Linked DNA regions of Homo sapiens: regions 1, 2 and 4 are each linked to region 3. Evidence: fine-mapped expression QTL. A gene starts in region 3. Each other region holds a variant in brackets. All regions are shown on one strand. Distances are between the middles of the regions.

Region 1 (2,685 bases), 95 kb after region 3:
TATGTTTTTAAGAAAGCAGAGACAGGGTTTCACCATATTGGTCAGGCTGGTCTCGAATTCCTGACCTCAGGTGATCCACCCGCCTCAGCCTCCCAAAGTGCTGAGATTACAGGTGTGAGCCACCACGCCCAGCCGAGAACCTTAATTTCTTTCAAGATCCCTGACTCAATAATCCTACTCCTGGAAATCCTAATAAAATGCCATTATTCAAACTCAAAAAAAAAAAAAAAAAAAAAAAAAAAGAAAGTGGCAGTGCGCGGTGGCTCACGCCTGTAATCCCAGCACTTTGGGAGGCCAAGGAGGGCGGATCATCTGAGCTTGGGAGTTCGAGACCAGCCTGACCAACATGGAGAAACCTCGTCTCTACTAAAAATACAAAAATTAGCTGGGCATGGTGGCCCATGCCTATAATCCCAGCTACTCTGGAGGCTGAGGCAGAAGAATTGTTTAAACCCGGGAGGCAGAGGCTGTGGTGAGCCGAGATCGCACTACTACACTCCAGTTGGGCAACAAGAGTGAAACTTCATCTCAAAAAAAAAAAAAAAAAAAAAAGTGTGCAAAGATGGTTATTGTAGCATTATTTAAACAGCAAAATGGGGAAACAACTAAAAGGTCCTTCGATGAGGAAAACCCAAATTACAATGAACCAAAACTCAATGGGTTCCCAGCAATAGCATGGAAAAATAAAAAATAATAAAAAACTCAATAGGATAAATGGCAGCCTAAATAATAAAGAGGACACTTCAGAGCATCATGGAAAACCTGCCAAAATTAAATTTTAAAGCAAACAGAATGGTGATGGCTACATAAAAATACATATGCACAGCCTACAGATGAAGAGAACATGAGGATATGAGAATATACTTGTTCTGGGCTCTTGGCAATGGTGGGTAAATATTTTGCTTTTAAAATTTCTTTAACATTTTAACAGAATTTTTTTAAGAGTAACATTTGATGTAAATATGCAAAAAATGTAAATGTTTTTGTTCCTAGCCACTAGACCACTAGAGACAAATGTGCAATTTTTTTTTAGCCAGTAATCTTACTTCTAAGAATTTATCCTAAGCCAGGTACAGTGGTTCACGCCTGTAATCCTAACACTTTGGGAGGCTGAGGTGGGAGGATTGCTTGAGCCCAGGAGTTAGAGACCAGCCTGGGCAACATAGTGAGACCTTGTTTCTACCCAAACAAAACAAAACAAAAAAAAGAAAGACAAAAAAAAACTCAAAAAACTAGCTGGGCATGGTGCCGTGCACCTGTGGTCCCAGCTACATGGGAGGCTGAGGTAGACTGAGCCCAGGAGGTCGAGGCTACAGTGAACTGTGATCACACCACTGCACTCCAGCCTGGGCTACAGAGTGAGACCCTGTCTTATCCTAATAAAATAATAATGAACATGCTCACAAATTTATCTGTAAGTTCATCAGGATTTTTTTTAACTTGGAAAAAGAAAGCCGCTAATGTCTAACAAAGGATTGAATTATGTTAAATCCACAC[A/G]ACTAAATGCTAAACAGCTAGTTAGTAAAATATTGCTGGCAATGTAAAATCTCAAGATAATACTAAAAGACTCCCACTCACACAAAGAAGGTACTAAGTATCTGTAGAACAAATGAAATTTTAAGAGAGGGTTACAAAACAGGAGCCACATATTGTAAAAAACAAAAAACAAAAACTGTAAAAAGTATACACACATCTGTAAAATACACGCACAGATTTGTAAAATTTGTGTGTATATATAATTATAGAAAAATGGAAAAGAAAATAGAACCAAAATGTTTCCAGTGGTTACCTCTGGATTGGTGTGGTTATAAGTGATTTTTTTCCCCCTCTTTTCCTTTCTGTATTTTACAAGTTTTCCTTTACTTTTATAATCAAGGAGAAAAATTGTAAGGCTAAGAAGGAAACTTCTAAAGCCATCAGCTCATTTGTAGAAGCTTCTCCTAGAATGTTCCTCACCCCTCTATTCTCCGGCTCTGGCCTCTGTCCTTGAGGACGAGGAGGGGTCTTCTCTCTGAAACAGAAATGGTGTAAAATAAGTCTATTACAAATTGCTTTGAGTTGCTCCCTGTGAGGACCTGGAGCTCTTTACCAACAGGGTCAGGGCCATAGCCTCTTTCTTGTCCAGGACATGAACTTATGCCAGATTAATTCTCCAAATACGAACTCTTCATTCTACCTGCAACTGTTCTTCCCACGTGTATAGAGAACCAGGGAGAAAATCAACTCGTTATGAGATATTCACCAGATTGCACTACAGCCTACTCCTCTTACAGAGATCCTGACTCAGATCGGTTAGGAATCATGGCCAGATGCCTTCCCTGGGCCTGTTACAGATAACAGAAATCCCAAATCCATACTGGAACAGAGGGTGGGTTGTCAGCAGTAAGGGCTGAGGTTCATGGTTTCTCTGACCTTCCCCTATTAACTTCAGCTCTATCTCCTACTATTCTTGGGCAAATACCCAATGCTATTATTTTTGAGTCTCACCCCCTCAAATCACTCAACCCATGAATACTCAATTGAGGGCTTAGTTATACAATAAGCATTATGCAGGATGCTGTAATACTGATGACAGACCCAACCCTTGAAGTGTTCATGGTTTCAAGGGGGATAAAGCCAGTCATATGACACTGTGGTGGGAACTGGGTGAGAGCAACTAATGTGAAGAAGACAGACCACTTCAAG
Region 2 (2,685 bases), 47 kb after region 3:
GCCATACAGACTGTCGTGGCCACTCAATTGTGTCATTATAGGGCAAAAGCAGCCATATATAAAACATAAACTAAGGGACATGGCTATGTTCCAACAGATATTTACTTATGGAAAGATTTTTTTCTTTTTTTTTTTTTTCTTTTGAGATTCAGTCTCACACTGTTGCCCTGGCTAAAGTGCAGTGGTATAAACATGGTTCATTGTAGTCTCAACCACCTAAGCTCAAGTGATCCTCCTACCTAAGCCTCCAGTGCATCCTGGGACCACACGTGCTGGCCACCATACCCAGCGTGTGTGTGTGTGTGTGTGTGTGTGTGTGTGTGCGTGCGTGCGTGTGTCGGAGTCTCGCTCTGTTGCCCAGGCTGCAGTGTAGTGTCGCGATCTTGGCTCACTGCAACCTCCGCCTCCCAGGTTCAAGCAATTCTCTTGTCTCAGCCTCCCAAGTAGCTGGGACTACAGGCGCATGCCACCATGCTCGGCTAATTTTTGTGTTTTTAGTACAGACAGGGTTTCACCATATTGGTCAGGCTGGTCTTGAACTCCTGACCTCAGGTGATCCACTTGCCTCGGCCTCCCAAAGTGCTGAGATTATAGGTGTGAGCCACTGCGCCCGGCCCTGGCTTATTTTTTTTTATTTTTTGTAGAGACAGGGTCTCACTTTGTTGCCCAGGCTGGGACACTGATATTTGAGTTTCATGTAATTTCCACATGTCACAAAGCATTCTTTTGCTTTTTTTCCCCTAACCATTAAAAATCACAGGTCATATAGGCCAGGCATAGTGGCTCATGCCTATAATCCCAGCATTCGAGAGGCCAAGGAGGGAGGACTGCTTGAAGCCAGAAGTTTGAGACCAGCCTGGGTAACAAACCAAGACCCTATCTCTACTAAAAAAATCAGTCAATCAGGCCAGTCATGGTGGCTCACGCCTGTAATCCCAGCACTTTGGAAGGCTGAGGCGGGCAGATCACCTGAGGTTGGAAGTTCGAGACTAGCCTGACCAACATGGAGAAACCCTGTCTCTACTAAAAATACAAAAATTAGCCAGGCGTGGTGGCACATGCCTGTAATCCCAGCTACTCGAGAGGCTGAGACAG[G/A]AGAATCGCTTGAACCCAGGAGGCAGAGGTTGCGGTGAGCTGAGTTCGTGCCATTGCATTCCAGCCTGGGCAACAAGAGTGAAACTCTGTCTCAAAAAGAAAAAAAAAATCAATCAATCACAGGCCGTATTAAAATAGGCAATGGGCCATAGCTTGCCGGCCTCTGTTCTAGAACCACAGAGCTCAACCACTCTGTTTACTACCTCTAATAGTGAAGAACAGCTCTTGGTGTTTGTGCAGAGCTCAGCCATATCTATCTATCTATACCACGAAGACACCACACTCTAGCCCCAGAGGCAGCCAGAAGAAGGAAGCACTGAACAGGTGCTCACCCTGTATTAAACATTGCTTGCAGCACTACTTGTATGAATGAATTTTAACCCCCACTATTCCACAGTGCTGTGATTTTTCTCTTTACAGATAAAGCAACTGAGGTACAGGGAGGTTAAATCACTTGCCTGAGGTCACTCAGCTGTAAATGTGAGAAGTGAAGCCAGGATTTGAACCCAGACTAGACATTATAGACAACGTTCTACCATGCTATACCAAAGCTCAGCCTGGGCCCAGAGCCAGACTGTCTGGGTTTGAATGCGACAATGCACTGCATGTAAGCCCTTGGCACAAAGTCTGGGACACATTAAAGGTTGATAAATGTTAGCCATTAATATCATTAAGACTATTGTTACAACTACTGTGGGCTAGCTATGTGGCCTTTAGCAAGTCACTCTCTCTGTCTGGGCCTTGGTTAGGTCTCTAAATAGCTCCCAGCATCAACATTTTTCACCCCTATGAGGTTGCAGAGGGCTCTCTATTTTCCTTGGGTCTCAAGTTGAGTTTAAACTCTTGAGCAGGAGGTCAGGATCCTAGCCGAGGGGACACACAAGGGCCACAGAGGAGGTGAGGTGGGCTGGAAGTGGGGAAATAACATACGGGATACTGAAAGGGCTGCCCAGCTGGAGAGCTGGGAGCAATCTTTCTCCCAGCCACACAGACAACTATTTCTCACCAAAAATCTATTATGTTCCCCTGTAATTCAATCAGGCAAGAAGGGGGCCCCAAATTAAGTCTGGGACTAGCAAATTATCTTTTAATTGTACCCTCTGATTTCCATGTGATGAACACAGTACTAATGGAAGAATATGCAAGCCACAAAGAGACTGAGGCCAGGGAGCCTATGAGCATAACTCCTCTTGACATTTCACACAGCTCTGCTGTTCCAGCGGCGACGGGCTCAGTGAGTCGGTGTCTAGGAATGTGAGCAGGAGGCTGCAGGCGCTCTCCTCTCCCCCTACTCCTCTTACAAAGGACTTGGTGGGTGGGTGGGGAATAAGTGAGAGGACATCTCAATGCCATGAAAACTGCCTCCCCCTGGAAGAGGAACAGCCTTCTCCCCATGTCCTGAGTTGAAGCAGAAGCCCCTCCCAGGTGGAATCCATTTGACCTCCAAAAATTCAGACTTCAGGAGGAACCTTTGAAGGATTGATCACCAGATGTGATAAGCTGCTGGCTGCTCAGACCCAAGTGTGTGGTTCCTCAGAGCCAACTTCAAAGGGCCCAAGCCACCCATCACTGGGAGATGAAATGTCACAC
Region 3 (2,685 bases):
TTAAATTACAGCCTGCAAGATTGAAACAGAGTTTCCCCATTTCTATTTTGGGATCTGACTGAGTCACAAGGTAGTCTTGACGAATCACTCTGCTCTATCTCTCAGTTTACTGAGGCTGCCTGGGAACTTGAGCTGTCAGCCAAACAGGAAGAAGGGCCCTTCTGCCTACTCCAAAAGGCCTCAGTCAAATGGATATGGTGAGATTTAATGATGGATATAAATTACAGCAAATGGATTTCCTATAGGGTGAGGGAAAAAAAAAAAAGCAAACATTTTACTTAAATTCCTCTATACAATTTAGGGCTGGCAGAAAGGGTAGACTATTACAATGTAGCTGAGCAAATTTTTCCATGTTTGCATAACATGTGTTTTCAACTAAAGATACTCCTTCTATAGTCCTACTATATACAACACCCCAAAAAACCTCAAATGTAAGAAAAAGCAATGTGACAGATTTGACCCTGGCCAAGTTACACTGTTTTTTTTTTTTTTTTTTTTTTTTTTTTTTTTTAAGTGTCAGTGTTCATAAAGGCCCTTTTTCTTTTTCAAGGATGGGTATAAAGTGTTACTCGGCCGAACGCGGTGGCTCACACCTGTAATTCCAACACTTTGGGAGGCCGAGGCAGGTGGATTACGAGGTCAGGAGTTCAAGACCAGTCTGGCCAACACAGTGAAACCCCCGTCTCTATTAAAAATACAAAAAATTAGCTGGGTTGTGGTGGTGTGCCCCTGTCACAAGGTAGTCTTGACGAATCACTCTGCTCTCTCTCTCAGTTTACTGAGGCTGCCTGGGAGCTGTCAGCCAAACAGGAAGAAGGGCCCTTCTGCCTAACTCCAAAAGGCCTAAGTCAAATGGATATGGTGAGATTTAATGATGGATATAAATTACAGCAAATGGATTTCCTATAGAGTGAGGGAAAAAAAAAATCCAGCTACTCCGGAGACTGAGGCAGAATTGCGAGAACCCGGCAGGTGGTTGCAGTGAGCCGAGATTGTGCCATTGCACTCCAGCCCGGGCGACAGTGTGAAACTCTGTCTCAAAAAGAAAAGAAAAGAAAAAAAAAAAAACTATTACTCCACTCCCCACCAGAAACTCTTATTTTTTCCCCCCTATGTGGTCATGAATTCCTCCTGGGTGCATAGCTCCCTAAGTTGTTCTGTGTTTTAGTGCTTATAATTTCCCACATCCCATGATGCCCCTTGATAGAATTATTTTTTCTGTACTCACACAAATGGAAACAGAAGAGATGAAAAACCCTGGGGATGCGGCCTCGCAGGTCTCAAACTGATCGGCTGCTAAGCACAACCTGCATATCTCTTGGCTGAGTTCCTTTCTTGGCTCAGTTAGATTTTGCATGACCTAGGAGGCTTAGGACCCAGGGGGCGCCTTTCAGCTGAAAAACAGCTCGCGCTGCAGCAAGCTAGCTGGGAAGCTCCCAGTTCTAAAGAGAGGCTGTTTACCAGAACAGCATAACAAGGGCAGGTCTGACTGCAAGGCTGGGACTGGGAGGCAGAGCCGCCGCCAAGGGGGCCTCGGTTAAACACTGGTCGTTCAATCACCTGCAAGACGAAGGAGGCAAGGATGCTGTTGGCCTGGGTACAAGCATTCCTCGTCAGCAACATGCTCCTAGCAGAAGCCTATGGATCTGGAGGTGAGATTACAATCTTTCCTTTCCGCAGCAACTTCATGAAACAGAAGGGGTAAAGCCCCCTATTTCCCAAACAGGGCCAGGATGACAGGAAACGAAGCGTTTAGCCGGTTTCTGTTGTCCCGTGAAAGCTTTTCCACCCCTCCTTTCCTTGTCAGGGGCTTGCAGCTCCATCTTTGCCATTAAGAACAAAGGCAAGAAGCCACTTTCTCTCTGCCTTTCCTTGCTCATGAGTGGATGGAGCTTGGGGGTTCATCTCCCCTACTCCCCAAGTCCTGTTCTTTCTAAGCCCTTTGCATGGTGTGGTCCTCCTTCCCCAGCCTCCTTCTGTGGTTCTCCTGCAGAGGGGAGTGGGAGCTTGGAGTCTCATCCAGTCAGCGATGAGGCCGGTTTCCTCCGTTTGAGGCTGTCTTGAATCTTTTGCCTGACGGAGTCAAGGCTCCTGGAGAATTCTCCTGGGAGGGAGTATTTGCCTTTTAAACGGGCAGAAGGTGGCCGTATCCGTGAAGGAGGAAACACCGGAGTTTATGTAACGTGGCCATTACAACACAGGGACAAATGTCACGTCTGGGCGCCCCCCGTCCCAAAACTCCCAGCTCCTCAAAGGGACCCTAAGCCAGGCCTCCTCCTCTCCATCTCCTCCTCCAAAGTGGTCACAAGTTCAAGAGTAACAACGCTTTGCACTTCTGCAGCGCTTTCCAGGTTTCAAAAATAAATAAAACCTAACAGTCTCTGAGCGTTGACTGGGGGACAGGCACAGGCTGGGGGCTTCACACCCTGAGGTGTGCGTGGAGTTGGGGGGGGGGGGTGCGTGGGGCGTGGGGGTGTTGCCACGAGAGGAGAGGGAGGCCCAGCAGGGCCCGGGGTCCCCTAACCAGGCTGAGGTTCAGCCCGGGTGGTCCCGGCTCCCCTGTCCGCCACGCTGGGCGTCTTCCGTTCGCTGCCCGCTATTCTGTGTCCGGGGGCTTCTTTTCCTCACAGGCTGTTTCTGGGACAACGGCCACCTGTACCGGGAGGACCAGACCTCCCCCGCGCC
Region 4 (2,685 bases), 31 kb after region 3:
CGGGCCTCCAGCCGCAGCTGGTCCAGGCGTTGGGAGACGGGGTCATGTTCAATCAACAGCTGAAGTGTCTGGCTCGTCTGGCTAATTGCATCCTCCACCTGTGGCCAAGAGCAGTATAAAGCTCCCACAGGCTGCCCCATCCCAGGCCACCCATGGCCAACCCAGATGACTCAGGCACAGTGTGGCCAGTGCTCAACTTGTCTAATGGTGGCCTTTAGCTGCCAGTGGCCTCACAGTGCCCTCTGCCTGGCATCCTGTCAGCTCTCCCGTCCATCAACCATCCCTGCTACCCTGGGAACCTGTTACGCTGAAATAGGTCACCAGTGGTCACAGGCTCAATGCTAAGACAAAGAGATGGGCTGGGGGTAGGAAAAGGTAAAGGCTACAGCCTGATTTCTCAGAGGATCTGTTCCATGTCCCACCCTCACAAGACAGATTAGACACACACTCTACCTCCTCCACTCGAAGTGTGCGGACGGGGGTCCCATTGATCTCCAGGATGCGGTCCCCAGGGTGGATGGCGTTTCGATTGTTGGGACTGATGTGCATCCGGTTGACCCTGGGCCAGACAAGAGTTGAGGCAGGGTAAAGATGTCCTAAAAACCTGCTTGACCAATTCTGCTTGTGCAGGGAAGGTTTACCAGGTCCCAGGCCACCAGTGGCCCCTAAGGGGCCCAGGATACCCACACAGAAAGGCAACACCTTTTCCAGGATGCCCCATCTCAGTGAAGGGAATTGCCACTCACCCTGTGGCCTAAGCCAGAAACTTGAACATCATCTTCCCAATCTGGAGTTCCCTCATCTCTCCTACTCCCATCTCTAAGAACTCTGCCTTCTTTCCATCATTGTAGTTATTCACATCTCTTACCTGGATCACGGTAATAGCTTCTATTTTTTTTTTAAACTTTGTTTTTAATTTTTATTTGAGATGGCATCTTACTCTGTCATCCAGGCTGGAGTGCAGTGGCATGATCTGGGCTCACTGCAACCTCCACCTCCCAGGCTCAAGCAATTCTCATGCCTCAGCCTCCTGAGTAACTGGGATTACAGGCGCGCACCACCATACCCAGCTAATTTTTTTGTACTTTTTGTAGAGATGGGGTTTTGCCATGTTGGCCAGGCTAATCCCAAACTCTTTTTTTTTTTTGAGATGGAGTCTCGCTCTGTCGCTCAGGCTGGAGTGCAGTGGCGTGATCTCTGCTCACAGCAAGCTCCGCCTCCTAGGTTCATGCCATTCTCCTGCCTCAGCCTCCCGAGTAGCTGGGACTACAGGCGTCCGCCACCATGCCCGGCTAATTTTTGTACTTTTAGTAGAGACGGGGTTTCATTGTGTTAGCCAGGATGGTCTTGATCTCCTGACCTTGTGATCCGCCCACCTCGGCCTCCCAAAGTGCTGGGATTACAGGCGTGAGCCAC[T/C]GCGCCTGGCCTAATCCCAAACTCTTGACCTCAAGCAATCTGCCCACCTTGGCCTCCCAAAGTGCTGGCATTACAGGCGTGAGCCACTATGTCTACGTCTGGACTTTTCTTTTAATTAAGAAAAACAGAGACGGGGTCTTGCTATGTTGGCCAGGTTGGTCTTCAACTCCTGGCCTCAAGCAATCCTCCCACCTCAGCCTCCCAAAGTGCTGAGATTACAGGCATGAACCACCATGCCCAGCCTACAATAGCTTCCTAACTAGTCTCTATACCTTTAGGCTTTCCCCTCTCCAATCCAACCTCCATACCAGTGATCCTTCTAAAATGTTAACTTGGTCACAACACCTTGCTGCTTAAACTCTCAATGGATCTGCTGGATTTTCATAATCCAGGCCCTCTATACTTAACAGCCCCTTTTCTGGCCACACTCAACCTACATCAGACATGATTAAGACTCCTACTTTTGGAGAAATGCTTCTCCCTCTGCCCTGAACACAATTCCCTCTCCTCTTCATCTAATAAGGTTGTAGAACAGACCTTAGCTCCTCCTGACTTCCCAAACTCTAGTATCTTTCACCTGCTGTGCAAGCACTAGCCTAGTGTCCAACACATGGTAGATACACAATCAATATTTACATGGTAAGCGGCCAGAGGTACGACATTACTGGTATTAGATAGACACAGACTCTTTCTCCATCTGGTCTCTGGCCTGAATCTAGGATAGGGTCTTAACTTCTTTTGGGCCATGGACCACATTTTCTCCATTCATTCTCTCGACTGACAAAATAATAATCAATCAACTCCTACTATATGCCAGGTACTCTTCCAAGCCCTGGGCATGCAGCACTGAATAAGACAGCAAGTTTCTTCTGGAATTTACATTCTAGTGGAGGGGATAGAAGATAAACAACTAATACACATAATCAAGCCAGATGATTTCAAAGAGCAAACATGACCTGAAACCTGACACCTGAAAGGTGAGTGATTCTTGCCTTAAGTATCGGGTAGGAAGTAGCCTGGGCAGAGAGAACAGTAAGTGCCAAGGCCCAGGTACGGTTACAGCATAGTGGGGTCCAGGAGAAAGATATGAGATGAGAATAAAGGGAGTTCTGCATGAGACTTTGGAGGTCTAAGCCCTCTGAGGCCCATTTACAGACTCTGCTCAAGAACCCCTGCTGAAGGGTTCTCAAAATACTTACTCTTTCACTTGCACAGTGGTGGCGTAGTTGGAGCAGGCACTCTCCACGGACACGGAGAAGCCCCGCCTGC

Alleles and levels. Alleles are on the strand shown, and positions count from the first base shown. SD is a standard deviation of normalised expression in the study named. Not every link is listed here.
With allele G in place of A in region 1, the expression in whole blood of the gene that starts at base 1,439 in region 3 is higher (small effect, 0.13 SD a copy in GTEx).
In carriers of allele T in region 4, the expression in testis of the gene that starts at base 1,439 in region 3 tends to be lower than with C alone (moderate effect, 0.73 SD a copy in GTEx).

Evidence for each region. PIP is the estimated chance that this variant, and not a neighbour inherited with it, causes the effect. A credible set is the group of variants that fine-mapping cannot tell apart.
Region 1: its variant is the best candidate, but not a certain one, in a credible set for the expression of PIK3IP1 in whole blood (GTEx, PIP 0.87).
Region 2: its variant is the best candidate, but not a certain one, in a credible set for the expression of PIK3IP1 in whole blood (INTERVAL, PIP 0.50).
Region 4: its variant is the best candidate, but not a certain one, in a credible set for the expression of PIK3IP1 in testis (GTEx, PIP 0.88).

What each region holds. Positions count from the first base shown.
Region 1 is chr22:31,196,262-31,198,946 of GRCh38, reverse strand. RNF185 (ring finger protein 185) reads right to left here. Exons shown (of 7, transcript NM_152267.4): 5 at 1,957-2,011. Among named protein-coding and RNA genes, the nearest start is that of LIMK2, 15 kb to the left of the region's middle. The variant A/G (reference allele first, on the strand shown) is at 1,498.
Region 2 is chr22:31,243,822-31,246,506 of GRCh38, reverse strand. The region is part of intron 2 of LIMK2 (LIM domain kinase 2); the gene reads right to left. Among named protein-coding and RNA genes, the nearest start is that of LIMK2, 33 kb to the right of the region's middle. The variant G/A (reference allele first, on the strand shown) is at 1,096.
Region 3 is chr22:31,291,242-31,293,926 of GRCh38, reverse strand. PIK3IP1 (phosphoinositide-3-kinase interacting protein 1) reads left to right here and starts at 1,439. Exons shown (of 6, transcript NM_052880.5): 1 at 1,439-1,652; 2 at 2,631-2,685. The coding sequence starts at 1,583. LOC105372997 (a long non-coding RNA gene) reads left to right here. Exons shown (of 4, transcript XR_001755493.3): 3 at 106-197; 4 at 775-983. RefSeq lists an enhancer at 2,057-2,106 and a silencer at 2,667-2,685.
Region 4 is chr22:31,260,008-31,262,692 of GRCh38, reverse strand. LIMK2 (LIM domain kinase 2) reads right to left here. Exons shown (of 16, transcript NM_005569.4): 5 at 2,616-2,685; 6 at 454-559; 7 at 1-98. Among named protein-coding and RNA genes, the nearest start is that of PIK3IP1, 31 kb to the left of the region's middle. The variant T/C (reference allele first, on the strand shown) is at 1,417.